Regions from separate parts of the Homo sapiens genome. Here regions 2, 3 and 4 are each linked to region 1. The links come from fine-mapping of genetic effects on gene expression. A gene starts in region 1. Each other region holds a variant in brackets. All regions are shown on one strand. Distances are from middle to middle. Region 1 holds the start of HSD17B11 (hydroxysteroid 17-beta dehydrogenase 11). Region 2 overlaps SPARCL1 (SPARC like 1). Region 3 overlaps NUDT9 (nudix hydrolase 9). Region 4 overlaps NUDT9 (nudix hydrolase 9).

Evidence for each region. PIP is the estimated chance that this variant, and not a neighbour inherited with it, causes the effect.
Region 2: its variant is the best candidate, but not a certain one, in a credible set for the expression of HSD17B11 in whole blood (TOPMed, PIP 0.51).
Region 3: its variant is the best candidate, but not a certain one, in a credible set for the expression of HSD17B11 in whole blood (INTERVAL, PIP 0.54).
Region 4: its variant is the best candidate, but not a certain one, in a credible set for the expression of HSD17B11 in lymphoblastoid cells (CAP, PIP 0.68).

What each region holds. Positions count from the first base shown.
Region 1 is chr4:87,389,427-87,393,426 of GRCh38, reverse strand. HSD17B11 (hydroxysteroid 17-beta dehydrogenase 11) reads left to right here and starts at 2,239. Exons shown (of 7, transcript NM_016245.5): 1 at 2,239-2,566. The coding sequence starts at 2,357. RefSeq lists enhancers at 1,372-1,944, 1,958-2,027.
Region 2 is chr4:87,521,225-87,527,368 of GRCh38, reverse strand. The region is part of intron 1 of SPARCL1 (SPARC like 1); the gene reads left to right. It overlaps LOC124900729 (a long non-coding RNA gene), which reads right to left. Exons shown (of 2, transcript XR_007058171.1): 2 at 874-2,016. Among named protein-coding and RNA genes, the nearest start is that of SPARCL1, 5.1 kb to the left of the region's middle. The variant AG/G (reference allele first, on the strand shown) is at 3,136.
Region 3 is chr4:87,443,974-87,450,117 of GRCh38, reverse strand. NUDT9 (nudix hydrolase 9) reads right to left here. Exons shown (of 8, transcript NM_024047.5): 5 at 865-976. Among named protein-coding and RNA genes, the nearest start is that of SCPPPQ1, 24 kb to the left of the region's middle. The variant C/A (reference allele first, on the strand shown) is at 2,617.
Region 4 is chr4:87,450,808-87,456,951 of GRCh38, reverse strand. It overlaps NUDT9 (nudix hydrolase 9), which reads right to left. Exons shown (of 8, transcript NM_024047.5): 6 at 5,217-5,363; 7 at 2,497-2,581. Among named protein-coding and RNA genes, the nearest start is that of SCPPPQ1, 17 kb to the left of the region's middle. The variant C/AC (reference allele first, on the strand shown) is at 4,143.

The DNA.
Region 1 (4,000 bases):
ATTTCAATTTTACAAATTTAGAAACATGTTTAGAGAGATGAAGTCACATACACATAAGGGATTCAGGTACGACTGCGTCCAAATGCTGTGTTCTTTCCCTTAACCAATGAAACCTTGATCAACTGTAGGTTAAAACTACCCAGTTTTTTTTAATTAATAGAATGGAATAAGAAATAGCATAGCCAGACCGTGTGCCATGGCTCACGCCTGTAATCCCAGCACTTGGGAAGACCAAGGTGGGTGGAACAGGAGATCGAGATTGAGACCATCCTAGCCAACATGGGGAAACCCTGTCTACTAAAAATACAAAAATTAGCTGGGTGTGGTGGTGCGTGCCTGTAGTCCCAGCTACTTGGGAGGCTGAGGCAGGAGAATCGCTTGAACCTGGGAGGTGGAGGTTGAGGTTGCTGTGAGCCAAGATTTCGCCACTGCACTCCAGCCTGGAGACAGAGGGAGACTCCTTTAAAAAAAAAAAAAATAGCATAGCTAGAGCCTCAATATATGAAACTCAACATAGTTGAAACACTTCTTATAGTAGATCACCATGTCAGATGTAATTTATTCCTGTAGGTGTTGGACCAAAAAATTGACAAACACTGAACATATGTGTAGCCCCAGTTACACTTTTACTCACTGTGTAGATTTTAAAGTTGATCTAACAGATTTATTCATTTACAGTATAGGTATAAATATATCCTGACTCTACTTTTCTCTATTTCCTAGGAGGCTTTTGAAAATCAAATGAAATAATATATGTGGAAGAACACTTTGTAAACTTTCTATACAAGTGTTTTGTAAATTTGGATTTGGAGGCTATCCAAAAAAAAGTTGTAGATATTCTGAATTCAAAGAATTCTATAATGGGGTTCACTTTTGTGAGGCTGCCACTATCCCTTCATCCCCTATAACAACGTATGGCTGCTTAAGTAAGAGGGACAATCGAGTTTGAACTATTTGTGAACTTTGATTTTTTTGTGTGATCTTTCTGGCTCTTAAATATGAAAGTTGACTATTGTCACACAACAAAGTCCCTTCCCAAGCACTGGAGTGTCTTGCGCAAAACCCAAATCCAATGTCTGTCAAAAATGAGTTGGAAAAAAATGCATGCAATACCATTATTAAGCTCTTACTGGACACAAGCCCTAGTTAGGTCTTTTCTTCCAGTAACCAATCTCTAGAATTTTTTCAAGTCACTAGTTAGCATATACTGAATACCCATTTATATAGGCTACAAAACCAAATGTTACATAGGTAATCTTTAGGCTAAATGATTTGCTATTTATTCACTTGAATAAAGATAAAATTCCTAAAGTACAACATATATTTTTTATTTTCAAACTCTAATAGGTCAAGTGAAAAATGATTATTCAAATATACTCTTCTTTCTTGTGGAAACAATCCCTTTAATACGATAACAATTTTTTCTGGCGCTTGATTGAAGCTGTCCTTGAACAGACAAAATTTCCCCTGTCTTCCAGAAATCGTGCTTAGTTCAAACTAAAATGTGATGTAGCGCAATTTCTCAGCTGGAAGCAGAACGATTGGTCTTTTCAGGATCCTTTAAGATAGGAATCTACATTTGCATCCTCTATCTAGTTTTTGTTTTTTAGGACAAAGTCTGGCCTTTTCGTCCAGGCTGGAGTGCAGTGGCGCGATCTTCACTCACTGTAGCCTCCACCTCCTGGACTCAAGCAATTCCCGTGCCTCAGTCTCTCGAGTAGCTGGAACTACAGGCACACGCCACTACGCCTGGCTAATTAAAAAAAAAAAAAAAGAGACCGGGGGTCTCCCTATGTTGTTCAGGCTGATCTCGAACTCCTGGGGTCAAGCGATCCTCCCGCCAGGGCTTCTCAAAGTGCCAGGATCACAGGCGAGAGCCGCCGCGCCCAGCGGCACCCCCTATCTAGTGATAAGCAACCTTCAACTATGAAAGAAGCATCTGGCCTGTGGACACTGTCGGTTATCCTTGGAACTTATCCAATTTAGGAAAACAAGTGAGCAACTAACCCTCCAAGGCCGGCTCACGACACCGGGAGAAAGTGGTGTAAAAGACAATCGCGGCCACACACCGCGTGGGGGCTGCGCAAAGCAGAACTAGGAAGCTTTGCTCCGGTCTGGACTTCGTCCCTCCCAGATCTCTGAGCTAGCAAGCACTGCAGCCCGAGCCAATTGCGAAAGACCAACAAAGCCCAGCCCAGCGGAAGGAACGGTTTCGGAGTTGTTTTTCTTTGATACGGGAGTTCCTCCTTGCTCTCGCCCCTACTCTTTCTGGTGTTAGATCGAGCTACCCTCTAAAAGCAGTTTAGAGTGGTAAAAAAAAAAAAAAACACACCAAACGCTCGCAGCCACAAAAGGGATGAAATTTCTTCTGGACATCCTCCTGCTTCTCCCGTTACTGATCGTCTGCTCCCTAGAGTCCTTCGTGAAGCTTTTTATTCCTAAGAGGAGAAAATCAGTCACCGGCGAAATCGTGCTGATTACAGGAGCTGGGCATGGAATTGGGAGACTGACTGCCTATGAATTTGCTAAACTTAAAAGCAAGCTGGTTCTCTGGGATATAAATAAGGTAACAGTGTTTACTATGTTTTACTTTCTGGTACCTTTAATTTGTGGATGTGTCTGCATTTTGCTGGCAACCACCCTTTACCTCATCTCTGCAAAGCAGGGAGGAAAAAAAAATTAGTATTGCCATTTTGCAGATGGGAGGGCATGAATTAATATGTTGTATGATCACATGATAAACAGACCTAGAGGTTATAATAGTCCCAGTTACTGCCCCATTTGTAAATTGATCCCCATTTTTGCCCTAAGGATAACTCATAATTTTTTCCTGAACCTGATTTCATTGATCCCTCTATTTTAAAAATAGGGAAAAAACAATCGTTTTAGCTATATATTAAAAGAGTAAGAAGCTTGTACCTATTAAGAGAAAGTCCTACTTACTGTTAATGAGAAAAGTGGTTTGAAAGATTATACTCGCCGTTGGCTCACGCCTGTAATCCCAGCACTTTGGGAGTCCAAGGCAGGCGGATCGCGAGGTCAGGAGATCGAGACCATCCTAACACACTGAAACCCCGTCTCTACTAAAAATACCAAAAAAAAATTAGCCGGGCGTGGTGGCGGGCGTCTGTAGTCCCAGCTATTGGGGAGGCTGAGGCAGGAGAATGGCGGGAACCCCGCGGGGCGGAGGTTGCAGTGAGCCAAGATGGCGCCACTGCACTTCAGCCTGGGCGACAGAGCTAGACTCCGTCTCAAAAAACAAACAAAAAGATTATACTCAACAGAAACCAATGCTACATTGCCATAGTTATTGCCAAGAGTAATTTTAAAAAGCATCTTTTCCGGGAGGCTGAGGTGGGGGGTTGCTTGAGCCTGGGAGGTGGAGACTGCAGTGAGCTGTAAACGCCCCACTGCACTCCAGCCTGGGTGACAGAGTGAGACCCTGTCTCAAATTTTTTTAAAAAACATTTTTTACCACGTTTGACCTGTGATACTGAAGGAGTGGCGGGAAAGCATCTTTTAGTAAAAACAATAAAAGGGAAAAAAACTTTCAGTGTAATTTTTTACCTAGGACAAGTGTAGGTGTGGCTTAGGGAGGAGAAGAGGACCTAGAATCCAACCTTTTATTTGACCTTTGGTAGATGAACAAAGGGGTTTCTAGAAGATACCTGATGGCCTGAAACATTATCCATTACACACTAGTTGACATGCAATGCTGTAAACAATAATTCAAAGGATGTGAAGTTAAATGAGGGTTAACCCAGTGAGTGGCTGATGAAGACAGCAATCAACAAATAATGACTGTCTGCTGCTTAGACATTAGGGATAGGGTGACAAACAGAAAATAAGGTTCCATGACCTCAGTCTAGTAGGGAAAATGGACATTAAGTAATTACAAGTGCAGGCTGGATGCGGTGGCTCACACTTGTAATCCCAGCACTTTTGGAGGCCGAGGCGGGCAGATGACCTGAGGTCAGGAGTTCAAGACCAGCCTGGCTAA
Region 2 (6,144 bases), 130 kb before region 1:
ACATAGTCCTCACTTATCCCTCTAGAATGATCTTCAGTGGAGAAGGAGACCCCCATAAATAAATCCAGTAGAACTTCCCAGTAGGCCTGGCTTCCTGAGAGATGTCCAACCAGGCCAGGGTCTGTTTCTTACGGGGCTCACAGGGCATCTTCTGCCAAAGGCTGAGTTAGCGATGATAGCATTACCTAGGGCTAGCCTGGCTTTTGTCTTAGTCATCAAAAGATGGATAGAACTTTGAAAAACAGAGTGCATGGTCTTGATGATTGTTCCAAAGGTGGGGAGGCAATCTAATAAAGTGAATAAGGCCATGACCTGTGGTTTATATCTGACCATATGGACCCTGTTTATATAAGACCGTGGTTTATATCCAAGCTTTACCACAAAATAGCTCTGTGACTTTGGGCAAACAACTTCATCTCTTTGTGCCTCAGTCTCTTCATTCATGGAAATGGGATTATAAAATCAGTAGCTACCTCAGAGATTTGTTGTAAGAATTAAGTGAAGAAAAGAGCCATGTTTGGTACATTAAAGCAATCAATCAATCGTAGATAATATGAAAGTACTGGACTAACTATATGTCCCTATTGAAACTCCGTAGAACGGGAACTGACTCTAGATATTTTCTCAGGGTTTCTTCCTTGTACTTATACGTTTTGCTCTATAATAAAATATGAATGCCAGGTGTATGCCTCTGAGGCAGCACAGCAGAGTGGACAGAGCATGGGCTTCAGAGTCCAATGCATCTGGGCTAGAATCCTGACTCTGCTTCTTACAATCAGTGTAAGCTTTGGCAGTTACTTCCCACCTGCATGACTCAGTTTACTCATCTGTTTAGCAAAATGGGGATAATAATACACACAAATGAGGTCGTTGTAGGAATGAAATGTGATGTTTATTAAATGCCAAGTATAGCACCTGGCAGAGAAGTAAACACATAGGAAAGTTGACTGGTTGCTCATAAGGAATCTCGTATATCAGTGAGGCCTCTGTTACATACTTGCAATGATTTCTCTGGTAGTAACAATGGAGATCAAGAAGGAAATATTCTTTGAATTGCCTTTTTTATCCAAAGAAATGTAAAAGTAAATCGGACACTACTATTTTCCCCTGGTGGGGGGCCTCAACACGAGGTATTTATTACTATGAGACTTCACTGCTGCATCAGTTAGTAGCTTCTTAATGGCCAAGTCAAAGGAAACCAAAGAAAGTGTTCTATGCCAGCTTGCCATTACACAGAGTGAGAAGAAATGCTGCTTTGCTGTCAATTCTGTTTTATTGGCCCACTTGGACAAGAGGGAAAGCCCCCAACATTTCTTCTTTCTTATCTCTTCTAAAGGCAAGAATAGGGCTTTTGACTTGCTCCAGGGGATATTTTTTCCTCTCTAACTGAAATTCAAGTGAAAGAGTCTTTTTTTTGTTTTTTTGTCTTTGTTTGGTGTTTTTGTAAACCTCTCCCCTATGTTCCTAGCATTGAAATGTAAGCTGCTTTTTCTGGCTGCATGTAGCAGGAGCAGGCTGTCGTCATAGCAATGAAAGGGTGTAGAGAGACTCCTGCTTCATGACCTGCTCTGGGAAATAACTCTTAGTCTGCTTTAAAATCCTTCTTTAGAAATGAAGTCTCCAGTCCTGGCTTGTTTCCTTCCTATTACACAACCAACTTATGTACACCCATTGCAGTAGCTAAATGTTTCCTTTAAAGATTTAGTGAATAGGTATTTTAAAAATCAACAAGAGAGCTGCTAAAACAGTGGCTAGTTTACTGTGGCATACAGGGGAAAAACAACTGGGAAGGCAAAGAAAGAGAAATAGAAATGGCCTCACATGATACACATACTGCAGCAAACCCTGCAATAAATCCATTTTTCAAGTTCCCACTGCTTCCTCCCATCTTCACGATGTGCTATGGTGTAGTGGTTATAGAGGGGAATTCTGGGGCAGACTGCCTGGACTTGAATCCTGGCACTCATACCTTCTAGTTGTTTTAATCTAATCCATTCTGTGCCTCTGTCTTCTCATCTGTGAAATAGATATAATAACAGTCATAAAATTGTCATGGGAATTGAATGAGATTGAGCATGTAAGGCATTTATTACAGTATCTAACCCATGGTAAAGGTTGGCTGCTAAGCTCAGGAGCCTCAGTTTCCCCCACTTGTGAAATGTGGATAACAGCTAATTCATAAGATCATTGTATTTTTTTTTTTTTTGAGACAGAGTCTTGCTCTATTGCCCAGGCTAGAGTGCAGTGACATGACCTCAGCTCACTGCAACCTCCACCACCTGAGTTCAAGTGATTCTTGTGCCTCAGCCTCCTGAGTAGCTGGGACTACAGGCATGTACTACCATGCCTGGCTGATTTTTGTTGTTTTAGTAGAGATGGGGTTTTGTCATGTTGGCCAGGCTGGTCTCAAACTCCAGGCCTCAAGTGATCTGCTTGCCTCAGGCTCCCAAGGTGCTGGGATTACAGGTGTGAGCCACCATGCCAAGATGATCATTGTATGATTAACTAAAATAATGAATGTACATGCTCAATAAGTAGTAGTTATTACAATTCTTTTTCATGGTTTTGTTATTGAAACAGCAAGGTTCCAGTCTAGGTCCTGCTGCTCACTTCGTAGAAAGCCAATCACTGAGACAACAAGTATTGCCAATGAAGAAGGCTTTAATCAGGTGCTGCAGCTGAGGAGATGGGAGCACAGTCTCAAATCCATCTCACTAACTGACTTAAACTAGGGGTTTACATAGCAAGGGAAAAATGTAACAATGTGTAAGAAAATAAGAACTAGGTAGGGGTAAGGAAACAATCATGGTGAATAAGCGGTCAGGCATCTGCTGCAGTGATCTGGTGAGTTTCCATTCTTTTATACTTTTTTAGAAGCCTGAAGGTCCTGTCCTGAGGAAGGAACTTAGATAAAACAAATATAAGTTTCACACTTTAAGACCAGGAGGGTCAACTTCTATGTTTTTCAAAAAGATCTGTCTGTGGGACTATTGGGTAAGTTTCAGTTTGATCTAACTCTGACATGAATGGCCTTTTTGAACTTAGAATTCCCAGTGAGTCAAATATAATGAATAGAGGCCTCAGAATTATCATTGCATAAATGTGAACCATTTGATTTCTACAGGGGGAAAAAAA[AG/G]AATTGTGACTTTTTACATTTATAAAGACTCATCTCATCTTGATTAACACCAGGGTAAAAAGTATTAAAACATCTTATCTTTCATTAACTTTTTATTACGTTTCTGTTTCAGTTCCTCCAGTGTTTTCTAGGTCATGCAATTATGAAAATAAGTTAGCATTTTTATCTTACATCTCAAACAACTAATGTATTCAGTGTTCTATCCCATGCAAAATTCCAGAAATGCAGCAAGGAGCAAAACTAGAGAGGGGCTGAGCTCTTGTGGTGCTTACTATGTAGTTATGAAAATGGTCATTAATCAAACCATCACAATAATGAAAACTGCATAGGACCAAACATAAGGTGCCCCCAAATACAATGCCATCTTCATCTTTCTAGTGAGAACATCCTCAACCAAAGTGTTTGGCCAAACAGCATGTACAAATGGGTAATATATTGTAATGTACACTTGGGATATTTAATCTATGGTTCACATACATATTTAATATGTTACTTTAATTTAAATATTTTATACTTATTAACATGACTTTTTCCTTTCTCACATTTCATGAAACAATTTTGTTAAAACTCTTCATACGCATCTTTAACACCAATGTGTATGTTCACTGGATCCACGCTGTAATTATCTAATACAGAGCACATCATCAATCCTTCTGCAAGTTGCTAAACATCTGCTGATGCTGCAAATTTAATCCCCAGGCATTAGTCCTCACTCGTGGTCATGTTCTCCACACTTTCATTACTGACTAGATTGTTTTTCCAGTGCTTTTTAAAGGGCGTATTTAAAAACCACTTGAAACTGTAAGTGTGGCTTTCTAAAACTATGTGATTCCAACTTGCAATAATGAAGTCATACCTCAGGAATAATGACTAAACCTGCTTTAAATATCTTTATCTATTTTTTCATCCATTTTGTCAAGGTGACCTTCCTAAGAATAAAAATAAGCATTGCTTGAGATTTTTTTTTTTTTTGAGACAGAGTCTCATTCTGTCACCCAGGCTGGAGTGCAGTGGTGTGACCTTGGGTCCCTGCAACCTCTACCTCCTGGGCTGGAGCAATTCTTCTGCCTCAGCCTCCTGAGTGGCTAGGATTACAGGTGTGCACCACCACGCCTGGCTAATTTTTTGTACTTTTAGTAGAGACAGGGTTTTGCCATGTTGGCTAGGCTGGTCTTGAACTCCTGACCTCAGGTGATCACCCACCTCGGCCTCCCAGAGTGCTGGGATTACAGGCATGAGCCACTGTGCCCAGCTCTTGAGATGATTTCTAATTGTTTTTTTGAATAGTACTTTGCTGCTCAAAATGAAGAAACTTTGGAAGCACTTGAATATAAGTCAAATCCCTCTTTTTTACGGCAGGATTTGGTGGCGTGAGAAAAAACACATTTTATTTGAACACATGCCATATATAATGATACACTGAAATAAGTGTTATGAAGGCAAAACACCTTTGTTCCAAGAGAGTATATAAGGATCCTGACCTCCACTCAGGATCAATAATGGCTTTCCTTGATCTGAAGTCTGAATAGAGGTTAACTCTGTGTGTGTGCGTGTGTGTGTGTGTGTGTGTGTGTGTGTGTGTGTGTGTGTGTTTGGTGGTGGTGGCTGGGAGGAGCGGGTGCTGGAGAGAGAATTCTGACAGCGTGAACACTTGTGCAAAGACCCTGGAGCAAGAGGGATCGTGGCCTATTTGAGGCACTGAGAGGCAGCCAGCTCCCGAGAGCAAGGGCAGAGCAGTGGAAGATGTAAATCTCCATAATACTCCCTTCCCTGAGCACTAAATGTATGTGCCCTTTGCTTGATTCAGGTTTAATGTATACTTTTAACGTCTGGATGGATTTCTGGTTAGTCTCAAAGCCCCAACAGGCATGACCATGTCTATCCCTAGCTCAGACTCTTATGGTGGTAGGTTCAATTAGGAAGGATGATGGGCAGTTGAAGGTCAGATGCCCAGAAAAGTCTTAAGTCATTGACTCTGAGTATATCATATACACTCACAGGGCTGGGACACCTTGATGTCAGATGGTGACTCAGCAGAGAACTCAAAATAGAAGAACGTCTTTTTCACCCTTCAGATGACTTTAGGGCCAAACCATAGAGCTCTCCCCAGAGACTCATTAATACTTTAAAAGCTCTAAAGCATCAGTGTTAACACTGGATCAGGTAACAGCACGTATATGTTAGCCAAAATATGACTAAGAGATTTGCTCTCTGATAACAAGGCCTTTGACTATTATGTAAAAACAAGGTGAACAGGAACGTTCTGAGTCTGTTTATAAAGTACCTATAATAATTGTTTTGTTTACTACATTTCCCAGAAAGGAAATTTTTCCATAGTTGTAATAATTGCTAAAAATAGCAGTCTACAGGCTTCCTCTGATATAAACAAATTCAACAGAAGATACCTGGCCTTATTTGGATGCATGGATGTACATACTCCAGGAAATGATAGGCCAAGAGTAATAAGAAAAAGAAAGTAACAAGACAAACCTCTCCTTTTTCTAGTACACATGGTATGTCTTTCTTAGTTCATTAAACTTTAGACAAAGTGATAAACAGATCAAGTTGTCATCATCTGCCTTGAAACCCAAAAATATTGAAACAAGTTCCCTAGGCCCAGAAGGGAAGGAAGAGGACTTGTAAATTTTGCTGAGGCTGCCACAGAAGGAGCTAACCACTGGAGGGTTCAGACTGGAGGGTTCAGAAACCAGGGGAATGCTAGGCAACACAAGGAAAATTCAATTAGAAAGACTTGAAGCAATAACTACCAGCACTAAAATTTCCAGGGAGTCACTGATGTGGCCAATATGAAAGAGGAATCCTGTTCCTCCTTTCAGAGGTATGGATGACTGCGTTTACAGTCTGGTTCAGTGTTCAGACAGCTTATTAATGCTTAAGAGAAAAGGAAAGAGAAGGAAGATAGAAAGAAGAAGTACAGCAAGGCAAGAAGTGCCCAGGGGAGCAGGTGTGCTAAGTTGATTTAAGTGGCATGGCAATATACAGAACTT
Region 3 (6,144 bases), 56 kb before region 1:
CCCGGGGCAGGCAGATTGCTTGAGGCCAGGAGTTCGAGACCAGCCTGGCCAACGCAGTGAAACCTGTCTCTACTAAAATTACAAAAATTAGCCAGGCATAGCGGCACACACTTGTAATCCCAGCTACGTTGGGAGACTGAGGCACAAGAATTGCATGAACCCAGGAGGCAAAGGTTGCAATGAGCCAAGATTGCGCCAATGCACTCCAGCCTGGGCAACAGAGTGAGACTCTGTCTCAAAATAAATAAATAAATAAAAAATAAAAAATAAATGGCCACTTCAAATATACCACTGCCATAAATTCAAACTACAAGCCAACAAAAGTATACTCATCTTGATAACATTATAGAAATTATTTAAACTACACAGAACAGTAAATAACAAAAGCTAATTTTTTAAATATTGTCAAAAGTTATCAGAATTCAACCAAAAAGTGCTTAAAAATACTACCTTGGGCTTGGAGTGGAGGTTAAATTCTGAAATGGGACCCAACATAATGAATGCCTATTAAATGTGATCTCTAATAATCCTGTGAAGTAGATCTCTTTATTTTAAAGATGAGGGCCTGAACTCCCAATCACCCAGCTGCAAGTAGAACGGCCAGAACACAGACCTACATCTAACTTCAAAGCCCACGTTATTTCCCAAAGGTGTCAGAATTACACGCAGATTCTAACAGTCTTGGATTATCCTAAACTTGTTGCTGACAATGACACTTCATGCAGGGATGAAAAACATAAGAATTACTAAATGAAGTGGGAAGGAATAGAGGAAAATGGAATAGAAAAGATTCACAAACAATAACCCTGTAGTAAGTAAAGCAACTAAAAGGAACTTAAACACTAATTTAATTTTAATGCTTACCCCTGGGATTGCCCATTCTCCACAGTCTTTCCTTTTTATTGCAACAAATTGTAAGATATGCTTCCCAGAAACAGGATGCATGATTTTATTTCCACTGCTATCCCTTTTCCATCTGTGAATAGTAATATAAAATCATAACGGATTTACAACAAAAACTAAGGTTCTATCTCAAACTTGAGATAAAGTTACAAGGACTTTTTCTTTAAAGCAGAGTATATATAAATTTATCTCAAATCAGCTAGTTTTATTTAAAACTATTGATTTTTACTGGAAATATTCTATATTCATCACTGTTACAAACCAGGACAAATGTCTACATTACATAAAAGACACTACATTATCTGTAATGAAAATTCAGGATATAAACAATTTTTACTACTTAAAGTATTAACAAAAAAAGAAGTAGCAGAATAGAATTTAAAGAAAAGGTTATCAAAGTTTTTTAAAAAATAAGTTTACGAATCCCCTTTTAAAAATTACTGGTAGTTGCCAGGCGCAGTGTCTCGCACTTGTAATCCCAACACTTTGGGAGAATTGCTTGAGCTCAGGAGTTCAAGACCAGGATGGGCAACAACGGAAGACCTCATCTCTACAAAAAATAAAAAATTAGCTGGGTGCAGTGGCATGCACCTATAGTCCTAGCTACTTGGGAGACTGAGGCAGAAGGGTCACTGTACCCAGGAGTTTAAGGTTGCACTGAGATAAGATGGTGCCACTACACTCCAGCTTGGGCGACAGAGAGAGGGCCTATCTAAAAATAAGAAAAAAAAAATTACTGGTAGTGAAAAAGGCATGGTAAGATTTGCTTTGGGCCAGGCGTGGTGACTCACACCTGAAATCCCAGCACTTTGGGAGGCCAAGGTGGGTGGATCACCTGAGGTCAGCAGTTCAAGACCAGCCTGGCCAACATGGTGAAGCCCTGTTTCTACAAAAATACAAAAATTAGCTAGGCATGATGATGGGTGCCTGTAGTCCTAGCTACTCAGGAGGCTGAGGCAGGAGAATCACTTGAACCCAGGAGGCAGAGGCTGCAGTGAGCAAAGATCGTGCCATTACACTCCAGCCTGGATGACAGAGTGAGACTCCATCTCAAAAAAAAAAAAAAAAAAAAAAAATTTGCTTTTAACAGTTCACCCTGTGCTAAGAGAAAAGCAGATTATATGACCCAGTTTAGCTGGTGTCAAAAGCAGTACTTCTCAATCTTTTTTTTTTTTTTTTTAAAAAGACAGGGTCTTGCTCTGTCACCAAGGCTAGAGTACAGTGGTGCAATCATAGTTCACTGTAACCTTAAACTCCTGGGCTCAAGCAATCCTCCTGTCTCAGCCTCCTGTGTAGCTAGGACTACAGGCGTGGGCCACCATGCCCAGCTAATTTTTTTTGTTTTACAAATGGGGTCTCCTGCTATGTTACCCAGCTGGTCTTGAACTCCTGGCCTCAAGCCATCCTCCCACCTCGGCATCCCAAAGTGCTGCAATTACAGGTGTAAGCCACCCGGCCCTGCTTCTCAATCTTTATGCCCTCTGATTTGATAAACAAAAAAAACTCTATCCTTTTATTTTATATTTTAAATTGAATTGCTTATGGGTTTTGTAGAAAGTATCAAGGCAATGTTAGTTTCAGAATACACTTTTTCTAACCACACTCTCTTTGCCAGAGATGTTGATATTAATAAATCTCCCCTTCCCCTTCCTCACCTCCATATCAACCTCTAGCCCAATTTTAGGAATTGTCCTAATGATCTCTCAGGCAAAA[C/A]AAAACAAAACAAAAAAAAAAAAAACTTCCAATGCTAAACCAAAAAAGAAGGTCTATGATATAAGTATTACTCTGGATGAAACCCAATAAAATATTAGTATGCATATGAGTTTCCAAATTTCCTTATATAGTAGCTGACTACCATATCTACCATATCTAGTTCCTCCCATGAAAGAGCTCATAGTCTAGCAGTGGCTCTAAATTAGCAGAAGGGTGATAGTTTGATGAGTATATTAAACAGAAATGAAATAATAATTAGTACAAGAGGGCACATCTGTTTTTAAAATGCCAGAAAGGGGAATACATAAGCAAGAAACAAAGTCATAAAATAAAATAATGTGTTCAAGAAACTGAATGTTCATATGGGGTCTAGCACCATGGGCATCAGTGAGGGAAAAGATAGACCAGAAAAGTGGGCAACAGGCTTATACGACAAGATTCATCTAATTCGTTTACTTAGAGAGCCAGAGAGTGTTTTTAAGCAGGGTAAAACCATAACCAGTTTGTATTTTAGAAAGCTCACTCACTTTGACAAAAGCATGTATGTTGGTCTGGAGGAAAGCAAGACTGGACTCAAGAAGATCAGCTGGGAGGCTACTACTATGATCCAGGTAAAAGATGATGACAGGACAGAAGACAGTATGGATTTTATTTTTATTTTCTAAAAGCCATTTAGATAGCATTTATTATATATATATAAAACACTGTTCTAAGTGCTTTAATGTATTTATCCATTTAAGCCTCAAAACAACCCTATAACATAGTTGTTTTATTATCTTTATTTTACAGATATGGAAAATGAGGCACAGAAAAGTTAGGTAACTTCCCCAAGACTACAGTGTTAACAAGGGCGTAAACACAACTTTGAACCTGGACAATCTGGTTCCAGAATCTGTGTTCTTAATTACTATACTATCTACTTAAACTGAACAAGCAGAATGTTTACACTAATTAGATAAGAGGAAAGACGGCCAGGAGCAGTGGCCCACGCCTGTAATCCCAGCACTTTGAGAGGCCGAGGCAGGCAGATCACGAAGTCAAGAGATCAAGACCATCCTGGCCAACATGGTGAAACCCTGTCTCTACTAAATACAAAAAATTAGCTGGGCGGGGTGGTGTGCACCTATAGTCCCAGCTACTTGGGAGGCTGAAGCAGGAGAATCACTTGGAGGTTGCAGTGAGCCGAGATAGCACCACTACACTCCAGCCTGGGCGACAGAGCTAGAATCTGTCTTAAAAAAAAAAAAAAAAAAAGGAAAGATAAGAAGGCAAATGGTGGCTATGTTCACTCATAAACATTTACTGGCACCTACTACACATCACATGCAAGGAGCTGGGAAAACAAAGACTCAATACAGCTACTGCTCTTCAGCCAGCCAGTTGTGACTATGAAACAAGGATGAGAAACAGAATAGAGAGAGATGCTGGCCACTGGCCAGGTGTAGTGTGGTGGCTCCTGCCTGTAATCTTAGCACTTTGGGAAGCCGAGGTGGGAGGACTGCTTGAGATCAGGAGTTCAAGACCAGCCAGGGTAACATAGCAAGACCCATCTCAAAAAAAAAAAAAAAGAGAGAGATGCTACTGGGGAGAAGGCAGGATCAGAGAGATGATCAGCAGCTTGCATATGTTCTCAGATTTTATTCTGAAGGACAAATGTATGGATTTTAAGCAGAGTAGCTTCTTGCTATATTATTTATTAGTATTAAATACATTATCACCAATTTTAAAACAAAATTTCTTGATCTAACAGAACTAATACATCATTTTAATTGACGAACCTAATAAACATTTACTGAATATCAGTAATATTTCTATGCCCTATTGCTATTCCCTCCCCAGTTCTAACAGTATGTACCTTCCTGTCTTTAACCAAAAGTGAACAGAAAATGAAATTGTCATCAATTGTTTGACCTGAATTTATTCACAATAATATATTAACACTTCCCAACTCATTTTGACTCTAGAGGATCTGAAGAAACTTTTGATAATTGTACCTGGACAATCTCTAGGAGAGATGCCTGGGAATCCGAAAATTTAACACCTGCCCCGGAGCTTCTGAAAAAGTTTATGAAATCCTGAACAACGCTGTTTTGAATCATGAAGTGCATACTTGAAAGAAAGGGGGGTGAAATCTTGGCTCTGAAAGTGCCTGGGTGATTCTCCAGTAGAATGAATATACTCTAAAACAATGATAAAAAGTACAGTATAGTAAAGACTCACTAGTGGTGTAACAGAAAAAGTACAGTATTTAAAGCCACTTACCCCTGATTCAGATGTCAGATCTACAACATTTAGGCAAGTAACTTAACCCCAGTGAGTCTCTATTTTCAAATCCTCAAAATAGATATATCAATACCTACTTGGAGGGGCTTCTGTGAAAAACAAATAGAAAAACTAATGATAGCACTGACAGGATGCCTGGAATAGACTAGTCTAAAAGTAGAATACTTTTAACAATTCATCTAAGGCTTGAATCTTCCTTCAACATCTTTCATTCTTCTCTGTTCCATTTCTGCTGCCTCTCATCTATTTAGAGGAACTCATCAATTTATTAATTAATGCATTACTATTAATTATTAATTAATGCATTATTGAGATAACAAAGAACATCAACTTAAGAGTACAGTTGAAAGCCAGACTCTGCCACCTGTGGGCTCTCTTATAGCCTCGGACCATCTCTAAGCCTTCAGTTCTCTTATCTGTATGACAAAGTTAAGCTAAAAAAGTCTACCATTTCAAAACAACTTGATACACAATCACCATGTATACTCCCAGCCACTATTGGGTCCACCATAGATAAAGATAAGCTAACTAGATTCTAACCTTCAAAACTCTGGCTTCCCTTTTCTGCTCTTGTCCCCTTACTAGCATTACATTCCTGTTTCAAACATTTCATACCTTCCTGTTTTTAGCCAGCTTCACCAAAATCAGAAACTAACACTGCCATTAATATTTTTTTTATTAACTCTTTCCATCTCATTTAAACCATAGAGGTTCTAACAGTATGTGGATGGAGAGGTAGGCTGATCAGTAGTTAAGTAAGTAGGTAGGTGAATGGGTGAGTAAGTGGATGGATGGATGGAGGGAAGATAAAATTTGGGGTTGGGTAAAGATCCTTTTTGGCAGGAGAATCAAGAGGGCAAGTAAGAAAATAAGACCGGGTGAGAATGGGTGCCTCTTCCAGTAACTTGAAAATAAAAAAATATATAAAGAGTTAAACTATCAAATTATTATTATATCTCAGATCAAAGAAAAACAGAGTCTCCTTGAAGAAAAGCCCCCAAAATATCAAAACTAAGAAAGTAACAATATGAGGATATTTGCATTATTTAAAGAAAGAACATGACAATTCCACGTGGGGAGACAGATGGTCAGCAAAGAAATTCTAAAAGTAAAAAAATAAAAATTAAAAGGATGACAAATATGACAATATTTCAGGTACATTAGAAAGATGATTCCTGTGGAGATAGCTAAGCATATCTAAACATTAGATTCACTGACCTTCTTAATTCTGATTCATGCTCATCA
Region 4 (6,144 bases), 62 kb before region 1:
TATTTTATTTTATTTATTTTTAGATGGAGTCTCGCTGTTGTTGACCAGGCTGAAGTGCAGTGGCACAATCACGGCTCACTGCAACCTCCGCGTCCTGAGTACAAGCGATTCTCCTGCCTCAGCCCCCCGAGTACCTGGGATTACAGGCATCTGCCACCACGCCCAGCTAATTTTTTTGTATTCTTAGTAGAGACCACACTGCCATACCAAAAACTGGAGAGACAGGCAAATACAGAGAATCACAACTGACCAGGGAGAGAAGCCTACCGCTGGAGTCAGCACCTGGTAGGAACACTTAAAGGGTAACTAACTGCTGAAAGCTGACCTTTGGACTAGCTTGAAAGATAAAATCTCCTAGGGGGTCAGCCATACCAGTATGAAGAGGGGGCCTACATTTTAGTGAGCTTTACCTCCAAGAAAGCCACCAGGTGAAGACTGGAGAAAAATCCTCTCTCCTTTCTAACATGGAGAGGGGAAAGGTAACCAATTTCAAATACACCCAGATCACTCTGCCCTCAAGGAAAACTATTTTACCAAGCCCTAAGCAACCTGAGGGAAAGGAAATACCCAACTCCAGCCCCCGCTGGATTTCCTGTCTTTCCTAAGGATTGGGGAGGAAGGAGGGAAGCTGAGAATAACATATGAAGGGTCACAGCCCAGGGCCACAGGCTCACTAAAAGACTGACATCTAACCATATATTCTCCTATGATTCCCCTTCCTCTAGAATTTACCACCATATCTATCAATAGGACTCCTGTTTAATAAAAGGGGAAGACAGCTGAAAGAAGGGCATGCTTCAGACCTCATTTAATAAGTCTCCAGGGAAACCCAAAACTAGAGGAAATTTTAGCCTCTGACACATACAATGACAGCAAACAAAAAACACAGCCTAACTCCTAGCCAGATAAACATAAAACCTCACGCTAAAGAACTATTTGCCTTAGTTCCCTTACAAGTTATATCATGGTCAATTTTCAAAAAAGCACTACAGCCAGGCGCAGTGGCTCATGACTGTAATCCCAGCACTTTGGGAGGCCAAGGTGGGTGGATTACCTGAAGTAAGGAGTTTGAGACCAGCCTGGCCAACATGGTGAAACCCCATCTCTACTAAAAATACAAAAATTAGCCAGGCATGGTGGTGCATGCCTGTAGTACCAGCTACTTGAGAGTCTGAGGCAGGAGAATCGCCTGAACCCGAGAGGCAGAGGTTGCAGTGAGCCATTATCATGCCACTGCACTCCAGCGTGGGTGACAGAGCAAGACTCCATCTCGGGGTTAAAAAAAAAAAAAAAGAAAAAAGAAAAAAAAGCACTAAAAGCACGCTAAAAGGCAAAAAACATAGCCTAAAGAAACAAAGCAAATATTAAAACCGAACTCAAATATGGCAGAGATTTTGGAATTATCAAAACAAAATTTTTTAAGTTTAAAGAGAGAAAAAGATAGGGTAAAAACAGTGAACAATCCATAAACTCTATAATCAACTTCTGGAGGATCAGTCATTGTTTTTAACTCCAAAACTTTAAAGTAGTTAACAAATTTATCAGTACTAAAGTTGTACAGACCTGCTTCTAATTTACATCTGCATATTTCTTCTAAGTTTTCATACTAGGATAAACTCTTCTAATACACCTTAGTGGAAATACAGGAATAGAAAATGGTCCCAGGAGTTTCCTCCAAGTTCAACAAGCAAAAGCACAGGATATGGAAATGACAGATCTAGTTCTAGCCCATTTTGTAAGTGAAAAAACTGAGTCCAAGAGGACAAATGATTTGTACAAGGTTACACAGCTCAGAAAGAACTATGAGTGGAACATTCATTTCATTTCTCTAGCATGGTGCCCCCACTTTTATGCTACAAATAAAAACAAATCAAATTTAGCAATAAAATATGTTTCAAGGGAGCCATTCAATGTGTACATTAAGACCAAATTAATTTTTAAGACAGCAGATTTTTCCTTTCTCCTTCTGTAATAACAGGTTTGACCCTCCTCATAAAATTTTAAATTCCATACACCAGAAACAGCATTCATTTAAAATTTTTTCAGTACTTGGAATTTTTTGTTATTGCTTTGTGTATTAACAATCCAAGATTATTATAAAAATATTTGAAATAGTAAGATATAAATCCCATTTCCTTTATCATTGCCATACTTCCTACCCAAATCCCAGTTGCTTTTGTTTTGCAAAAAAAGGGAACTATACTCAATAAATAATCTGACATCTTTAAAGCATATCATTTTAGCCCATAATTTCATCCTTAATTTCAAATGTTACCAATGGATTAAAGAAAATTTAGTCACTGGTGATAAAAGTTTTGAAGATTTCTTCTATGTATTCCTTTAATACCAACAATTTTGCTTTCATATAACTACAGTCCTACAATCAACAGTTAATTGGTTTAAGATGCTAAATAGTCCAGATTTAATCATGCCTTAGTGGGCTAATGGCTTAAATTGATCCTTTAATCCCAGCCAGTTTAATAAATATAAAGTTACCTGTTTCGTCATGGTAGTTCACAGCTTCTGTCTCCATCCATGCATTATCAGTGTTTCGAGGATCATCAACATATCCCTTATATATCTATTTTCAAAAGAAGACAAATTTTTTAAAAGTCCAAGGTGTAGTGAGTACAGCAGAGCATGTTACCTTCACTAGCATCAGAAATGTAAATATCCTGTTGCCCAACAACATGAACATACTTAATGCTACTGAGCTGTACCTTCAACAGTTTAGATGGTAAATTTGACATTATGTGTTTCTATCAAAATTTTTTTAAAGAAATGTAAATAGCCGGGCGCGGTGGCTCACGCCTGTAATCGCAGCACTTTGGGAGGCTGAGGCGGGTGGATCACCTGAGGTCAGGAGTTCGAGACCAGCCTGACCAACAAGGTGAAACCCTGTCTCTACTAAAAATACAAAAAAAATTAGCCATGCATGGTGGTAGGTGCCTGTAGTCCCGGCTACTCGGGAGGCTAAGACAGGAGAAATTACTTGAACCCAGGAGGTGGAGGTAGCAGTGAGCCAAGATCGCGCCACTGCACTCCAGCCTGGGCAACACAGCGAGACTCTGTCTCAAAAAAAAAAAAAAAGAAAGAAAGAAAGAAAAAAAGAAAGAAATGTAAATATCATAAAACTTTTAATGTAGTACTTCATGTGCTTGTTTCAAATTTCCCAAAGAACAATATTCTCTTTTGAGGCAGCTTTAAAAATCATGAAACCCTCAGGCCAGGCGTGGTGGCTCATGCCTGTAATACCAGCACTTTGGGAGGCGGAGGTGGGCGGATCATGAGGTCAAGAGATCAAGACCATCCTGGCCAACATGGTGAAACCTCGTCTCTACTAAAAACACAAAAATTAGCTGGGCATGGTGGAGAACACCTGTAGTCCCAGCTACTCAGGAGGCTGAGGCAGGAGAATCGCATGAACCCGTGAGGCAGAGGTTGCAGTGAGCCGAGATCGCATCACTGCACTCCAGCCTGGTGACAGAGCCAGACACTGTCTCAAAACAAATAAATAAATCATGAAACCCTCAACACTTCAAACTCTAATTTCAGAATCTGAGAACAGTCAAATTTGGGCAATATGATTTTTTAAGAGTCCATCACTTAAGTATTTTTCTGTGATTATAGTTTCTGAAATACAAAGGTAGATTCTTCTAGTTAAACAAAGGAGATCTATAAATAAAACTAAAGATTACTACTTAAGCTATTAATATATGAAGATATTTGGATCTATTCATCTAGCACAAACGTAACTCAAAAAAATCTGGACAACATAAATAACTAAATCCCAATTCTGAAAAGAAAACAAGCAATCCAAATAAAAACTGACCAAAAAAAGGCCGGGTGCGGTGGCTCACGCCTGTAATCCCAGGACTTTGGGAGGCCGAGGCAGGCGGATCACCTGAGGTCAAGAGTTCAAGACCTGCCTGGCCAACATGGTGAAACCCCGTCACTACTAAAAATACAAAAATTAGTCAGGCATGGTGGCACATGCTTGTAATCCCAGCTACTCTGGAGGCTGAGGCAGGAGAATCACTTGAACCTGGGAGGCAGAGGTTGCAGTGAGCCGAGATCGCGCCATTGCACTCCAGCCTGGGGACAAGAGCGAGACTTCATCTCAAAAAAAAAAAAAAAAAAAA[C/AC]TCTGTTATTTTCTTATTATTAGTGTGCATATACCTTGTAAGGTATTTTTTTAAAAGCACGGAATGCCAGGCTCACACCTGTAATCCTAGCACTTTGGGAGGTCGAGGTGGGGGGATCCTTCAGCCCAGGAGTTCAAGACCAGCCTGGACAACATGGTAAAACCCCATCTCTATAAAACAAAAAACAAAAAATTAGCCCAGTGCGGTGGTGTTTGCCTGTGGTCCCAGCTACCCAGAAGACTGACGTGGGAGGATCACAGGAGCCCAAGAGGTCAAAACTGCAGTGAGCCATAACACCACTGCACTCCAGCCTGAACAACAGAGCAAGACCCTATCACAGAGGGTATATGGACAAAACAGACATGAGACTTAAATGATTATCAACCAGAAAAATCTCTGTATGACATAATTTAAAATGTAAATGTTCTTTCAGAGAGAGCTGAATTCATGCACATACAAAAAGCTTTCTGTTGGATGGGTACTCAACGTGAAAGAAAATAGTTTACAGGCCAGGCGTGTTGGCTTACACCTGTAATCCCAGCACTTTGGGAGGCCGAGGCGGGCAGGTAACCTGAAGTCAGGAGTTCAAGGCCAGCCTGGCCAACATGGTGAAACCCTGTCTCTACTAAAAATACAAAAATTAGCCGGGCGTGGTGGTGGAAGCCTGTAATCCCAGCTACTCCAGAGGCTGAGGCAGGAGAATTGCTTGAACCTGGGAGGTGAAGGTTGCAGTAAGCCAAGATCGTGCCACTGCACTCCAGCCTGGGTGACAGAGCGAGACTCCATCTCAAAAAAAAAAGAAAGAAAAACTAAGAAGAAAAAAGTTATTATAATAAATGATATAAATGAACTAAATATATATCATTTTAGCCTATATAGCCTAAAGTTGGGCTATAAAACTTTAAATAGAAACCTATTTACAGTGAAGATCTGTAATTTGTTTTTGTGAATATATTTTAAATATACAAGTATTCCACTTTATTTAGAGAAGGACATACAGATTTCCAGGTCAACTTTTAAGTCATTTTCATCAATCCACAGAACTAAATCCCTCCCAGAAACACTATTTCTTACCACTAGGTGGTCTTGGCTGAAGAGTTTGTGCAACTTTTCCTCTATTTCTCTCTTCTCAGCACTGGTTTTCTGTAAGGAGTTGAGAGCTTCCTCACCAAATTCTCTTTTCAGTGTGGCACTAATCTTCTCTCCTGGATCCACCATCCCCTAAGAGTCACATTAAAAATTTTGAAAAAAGGGATCAGCTTTGATTTGTTCAACAAATATTTATTGAGTAGTAGAGTGAACATTTATTATTCAATCTGCCTATAATAGTGATCCCCATTTCTCTGTGATACACTGTTCTCTAAACCATCTGTTGCTAGTAGAAGGAGCCAATAAGGATACCTCATGTATTTGGCCACAGTGATTGGTCCAAGGTTAGCCTATGGCAATCAAACCAATTTCCTGGTACTTGCCAAACTCGAACTAAGGAAAAAGGACTGGAGGTTAGAAATAACACAGCACATTGATTCTTCCCCCATTGTTCATTCCATTCCAGCCACACTGACCTCCTCAATGTTCCCAGGACCTGCCTAACATGCTGCCCGCTGAGAGCCTTTGTACCTGCTATTATCTCTATCCAAGATGCTTTTCTCTAGATATCTGCATGGTTCACTAATTCATTTCCTTCAGATAGTTACCTAACATGCACCTCCTCAGGGAGGTCTTCTCTTAACTGCCCTGTCTAAAATCGCAAACTCTCAAACACTTCCTAGTCCTCTACCTTGCTTTTGTTTCTTAATACTTACTGCCTTCTAACATGCGATATATTTAACTTATGTATCTTATATTATCTGTCTCTCCAACTGGAATGGGAGCACCAAAAGACAGAGGTTATTTGTTCATGTTGCTCTGTTGTATTCTCAGTGTCTAAAATATTAGCTGACAAAAGGAAGATACTAAAAATACACTGATTAGATGAATAACTGTCAAAATGATAACAATG